2 separate regions of the Homo sapiens genome follow, and region 2 is linked to region 1. A link means that fine-mapping ties the variant in region 1 to the expression of a gene that starts in the linked region. Tissue or cell type: fibroblasts. Region 1 holds a variant in brackets; the other region holds the start of a gene. All regions are shown on one strand. Distances are between the middles of the regions.

Region 1 (2,686 bases):
TATTCTGGTACCTTCCATTTTGAAAAGTAGAGGTTGCTTAAGCAAGCAATGGATAATAAGAGACTTTTCCTGAGGCACCTGTTTGGAATCTGGTTTTCTCAGCGGCAGCTTGACATGTGCACCCTTTTGTATTAAACACTGCAAGGGTGATGCAGGGGAGCAGGAAAGCCATCCTAAACTCACTACTGAGTACGATTCAGTATGTTCCTGTGGATGTCTGCTGTGACTAATATAAATTTCTTGCAGAATCAGCTACACTTAATTATGTTGCTGATAGACAAGCATCCACGCTTCAGCTGGCACTAAGTGTTTTCATTGTAGGATCAGCAGCAGGTTAAAGACTGAACGGTTAGTGAAGACAAATGTCTTAAGAGGCTGCGATGTCTAGGTTGGGCTTGTGACTTCTTAGTGGCCTAGCCTTCTTGATGGCACCTTGAAAGTGAACTTCTAGAAATCTACATTTAAAAGGCAAAGCTTTAAAAGCAGAGCTAGTCTATTCTAGTTACTGATGCAACTAAAATTCTGTATTTCTTAAGATGGAGCCACTGACGAGATGTCACAGTATAGAGCCTGCAGTCTCAACTCATTGTGATCCTAATGGTCTGGGTGATTGGATGGTTTGAGTTGTTAGGGATTTTGAGTTTTTCATTTTATTGCATATCTGGGTTGGATGTTAGACTAAAGGAAACCCAGGAATATTTACCTGGTGTTACATTTAATATTTAATGTAACTGGTCTAGCAACATTAAGGGGGATTTCTGAAGCCAACTCCGGAGGCTGTGGGCTGCACATTTTGCACTGTTTTTATATACTTGTATTCATATCCTCTTATCACCTCAGACTCAGACACAAGGCCTTTTACATGGAAATTTTACAAATTACTTCCATTTATGTAAAATAACGTCCTGTGACCAAGTTGTTTAAATGGAAAATAAAGTGCTTTCTTTAAGGAAAATAGCTGGTGTTTCTTGGAGTGTCTCCTGAAGTCTTCTGATTTCTGAAAACCCTGCATTATACCTGTGCTGCCTCTGTGGCTCCCTCAATGTCTCTATCCTGTGGCCCTGTCCCTAGCCCTAAACTGTTATGTTCCCGGTGGCAATTTCTCCAGTTTTGTGGGTCAGGGATACTGCTTGTTGGGGCATTATGTTAACAGTAACATTTTGAAACATACTTTCATGATAGTCCAGCAAAAAACAGCATCAAAACTATTTCCATTGTATCTCTTTAGAAGGCTCTGTATTCGGTAAAAAGTCTAGCTGGCGCCATTGGAATATGGGCTGCTAAAGACTCAATTTCTAGTTGATGTTTGAGGTGAGGCAAAAATAAAGCTAA[G/A]GTAGAAAACTTAAGCTTTGTGGGATTTATTTATGCGCCTGGCATGTTGACTTAAGGAACTCAACCTTATGTACAGGCTTGGCATTTAAAGAAAACTGGTGGCTGGGTGTGGTGGCTCACTCCTGTAATCTCAGCACTTTGGGAGGCTGAGAGGATCACTTGAGCCCAGGAGTTCAAGACTAGCCTGGGCAACATGGTGAAACTCCATCTCTACCAAAAAAAAAAAAAAAAAAAAAAAAAGTTAGCTGGGCATGTAATCCCAGCTATCTGAGAGGCTGAGGTGGGAGGATCACCTGAGTCTGAGAGGTCCAGGATTCAGTGAGCCATAGTCAGGCCACTCTACCTCCAGCCTGAAGTACAGTGACAGAGTGAGACCCTGTCTCAAAACAAAAAAAACACAGAACAAACAAAATAATAAAATTGGTATTTCATTTCCGGGTGCTAATATCAGCCAGTATTTTGTAAATGTACTGTAGTTAGGTTTAAACTGTTAGTGATTTTGATGGAAAGTGATGTATTATGAATTACTTTTAGTTACATTTTCTTTAGTGGCCATTCATCTTGAAAAACACAGGTTTTTTTTTTTTTTAAATGACAACTGTATAATCCTATTAAAGGAAAAGCTGTGTGGGAACAGCCATGTCGTAGAAGAAATAAAGTTCAATTCAAGGTGTTTGGTCATATCACACATCCTCCGTGATAAAAGTATCTTAAGTCGTGTAGCAGGTGGTACAGCTAGATATCCTTTCTAGGAAGTATGAGACAGTAACAAGAACATTCACTTAAAAAACCACAGAATTTTATTTTGTCAACTCAAATTTTCAGCACACCAAATAAGAGTAATCATCTCAGGACTGCACAGGACTTTCTCATTTTACCATATGCATTTATGGACTACTTGAATTTGTTATATAATAAATGTGTATTTTATAATGAAAAATTATTTTTCTAGCAGGTAATTCTCTAACACAATTCATAGAAGAGAGCATTTTATCAGTCTTTATAGCATCTTAAAGATGAAAACATTCTTTGAATTCAAGATAGGTATCTCAATATCTAGATCAAACTGAGCTGAGTACTAGAAGACAAACTGAGTGTATTATTCAGCAGTTGCAGGTGGGAGCATGAACAGATAATTTAATGAATTGCTGGACTGTCATGATAGAGCTATTACCTTTTGGAATGTCCTTCATGCTTATCAAGGTGCACGGAAGAGAAGCATCTCTGGTGCCTCAGTTTCTCTGAAATCAGGATAAGCTGCTGTCCTCTGCAGCAGCTGTGTAGAGAACCTTTTCATACATGGTCTGCCTTCAGGGGTGGTGAAAGTGGACGAGGTCTGGTGGGGTGCGTGTCA
Region 2 (2,686 bases), 93 kb after region 1:
AAGCATCTTACTGATAACTAACGCAGCTGTACTGCTTAATAATTTTGTCACTGCAACAAAGAAAGAGCTGATCTAATTAAAATACAACTGAACTTGAAGAAGCCCTATGTTTTTACCTTTTTTTCTCTAGGCAGTAATAATGAGCACTAGCAGCAAAAATCCTTCCTTTTGGAGTCCTAAGAAATTATTCTAAATTTTTACCTTTCATCATCAAGTCCATATCTATATCCTATCTTGGATCCAATACATTATGCAACTGATGTATTGAAATAGCAGCAGCCTCAGTTTCCAAGTCTCCCTGATGCTTCAGTCTGTGCCCTCTAGTATCTAGGGCAACATATTTGTCATGTGGAATATGTCCAATGCATTTAGCTGGTAAATTTAGAATAAATCGCAAGAACAATCGCCTGGGGCCCTCAAAAAGGCCACATACATCTACAGAATATTATTTAGGAAAGTATAACTTAAGGGTGAAAACAGCTGGTGAAACTGCTCTGTAGCTGAAAGCTGAGAAGCTTCTCCATTTTAGTACTCTCATTTAGATTTTAAGCATCTTTTTGGGGACTGTTAAAAAGGTAGTCTGTGGAAAGCACACGGTGCAACTGTGACTTTGCACATGTCACATATGTTTCAAGTTTAAAATGGGGTTATTATTTTTTTCTTATCTTCAGGTGCTAATGCATCCAAATGGGTGATAGATACGGAGAGAATCTATTTTTTGAAAGTTGGTTGAATTTAGAAATTACTATGTGAATCAAGTATTAATGTATTCAATATCCATTTGCACTCCTGAGTTTATTTAGATACTTTACGTAAAAGTGAAGGGGCAGGAATATAGGCAGGGTATTTAATGTGAAGCTCTCTCCCGTTAATAAAGATCAATTACCCCAAGATTTGCAAAAAAAAAAAAAGAGAGAGAAAAAGAAAGAAATGTGCGAGAAGTTTCCTAAAATTTAAGGTAGGGGGAACGGAGTTTGCAAACTCCTTTCACCCCGATGGGCATTAGCAGACACCTCCGGTTTTAGAAAAGCGTTACAAACAGTTCTTCCACGATGCTGCCCACCAAAGCCGTAATGTGCCCAGACCCCAGAGCTCCTAGAGCATTTCACTCAGGGTAATGCTGGCTTTGGGGCGGTCAAGGCAGGGGCGTGTCAGCTCAGGATGAAGAGGCAGGAAGCACAGACGGGCCGCGACTGGCTTCCTGACTGCGCCGCGCCTTGGGAAAGTCCCCGCCCTCCAAAGCTCTCGATTGGGATCACCTTGGGACTCGGCTTCCTTGTGAACCGTTTCCAGCGATTCAGCCCCATCCTTTTCTTTGAGAAGGACCTTCCCTGAGGCGCCAGGAGCATTTTCCAAGTTCGAGCCCGAACCTCGGCCAAAGCTGCAGCAACCGCCCTTCTGCCCGGGCTGCCTCCGGGTCACGCTGGGAATTGTAGTTCCTCCGCCCGCAAGGAAAGCAGGCATAGGACACCGTCGAACCACCACTCCCACGAGGCTCTGCGCAGGCCGCTCGCGTTGGCTCAGTTACCATAGCAACGGCAGAGGTCCCTCGCTCTTGCCGTCATCAAGGCTCGCTTGAATGTCGGCTTTGCTTTTTTTCTGGCGCCCAGTGATGACGCAGTACTCCCTGATTGGCTCTGCACTGGAGGCAGTGATTTTGGGGCAGAGAATTTTGCAACACGTGGTAGTGAACTGTGAGGAGTTTGAGGGGTCTGAAGACTGAAAGAGTCGAATGGTTTGTTGGCAGGTAAGTGCCCCTTTGCCCTGCTGGTGTGGGAGCTGCTAGAGATGGATGAGTCACGTCGCGTCCAGACGCTTCCTGGTTGTGTTGCAGTAACGGTGATTGTACTCCCGCCATGTCTCCTCTGCTTCCCTTTTCAGGGTGTCCTGGTGGATTGGTTTCTGTAAGTTCAGATTCTCATAAATCGTGTGAGCGTCGCCGACACCTCTGAGATAAAAGGGCCCCTTTCGACTAGCCTCTGCTGAAAGGTAGAGTTTTCAGGAAGTTTTTATTCCGAACTGCCCATGGGAGGGTGGGACCGTCTTCAATCTCTGAGCCAGGTGCCTAGGGAGGTCTGGGGCCATGGAGATGGCCCATGGAGCAAAGATAAATCCAGGCTTATTGGCTTAGCCGAGGTGTTTCCAGAGACAGCCCATTTAGGGGTGATAAATGGGCTTATAAAGCAGAGTAAAGATTTAGAACAGGAGTTTTGAATTCAACTACTTTGTGGCTATATGACCCTAGGCAACTTGTTTAATAACTCAGAGACCCTGTTTTCTCATGCAAAATGGGGACGATAATACCTGAATCACTGGAGTGTTGTAATGATTAAAAATAAATGTATGTGAAGCATTCTGCCAGGAAATGTAAACTAAAGTTGATTTGAAATTGGTGAAAATGAAGTTAGGGAAGCTATGCCCTCGGACTGTTGCAGCGATCCTAGGACCAGCTCTGTAACTGGTCTGTCTGAAAGGCGGTTGAATAAATTGTGCTCATACAAACTATGCAGTACCACGAAGTAGTTTTTTTCAAAAGGGTAAGTTAGCTTTATGTCTCTTCTTCAGGAAAGACGTCTAATGTTTATTCTTGAGAGAAAAGCAAATTGCAGAGAAGTGCATATATTATAGTATAATATGTTTCCATTTTTGTAAAAGCAAACCCTGACCAAAACACTCCCTCCCATAT

What was found. PIP is the estimated chance that this variant, and not a neighbour inherited with it, causes the effect.
Region 2: QTRT2 starts here. The variant in region 1 is fine-mapped to the expression of QTRT2 in fibroblasts (GTEx, PIP 0.91).

The regions. Positions count from the first base shown.
Region 1 is chr3:113,962,028-113,964,713 of GRCh38, forward strand. ZDHHC23 (zDHHC palmitoyltransferase 23) reads left to right here. Exons shown (of 5, transcript NM_001320466.2): 5 at 1-1,346. CCDC191 (coiled-coil domain containing 191) reads right to left here. Exons shown (of 17, transcript NM_020817.2): 17 at 2,110-2,686. Among named protein-coding and RNA genes, the nearest start is that of ZDHHC23, 15 kb to the left of the region's middle. The variant G/A (reference allele first, on the strand shown) is at 1,333.
Region 2 is chr3:114,055,118-114,057,803 of GRCh38, forward strand. It overlaps QTRT2 (queuine tRNA-ribosyltransferase accessory subunit 2), which reads left to right and starts at 1,620. Exons shown (of 10, transcript NM_024638.4): 1 at 1,620-1,747; 2 at 1,882-1,989. CCDC191 (coiled-coil domain containing 191) reads right to left here and starts at 1,409. Exons shown (of 17, transcript NM_020817.2): 1 at 1,260-1,409. The coding sequence starts at 1,349. RefSeq lists an enhancer at 1,151-1,560.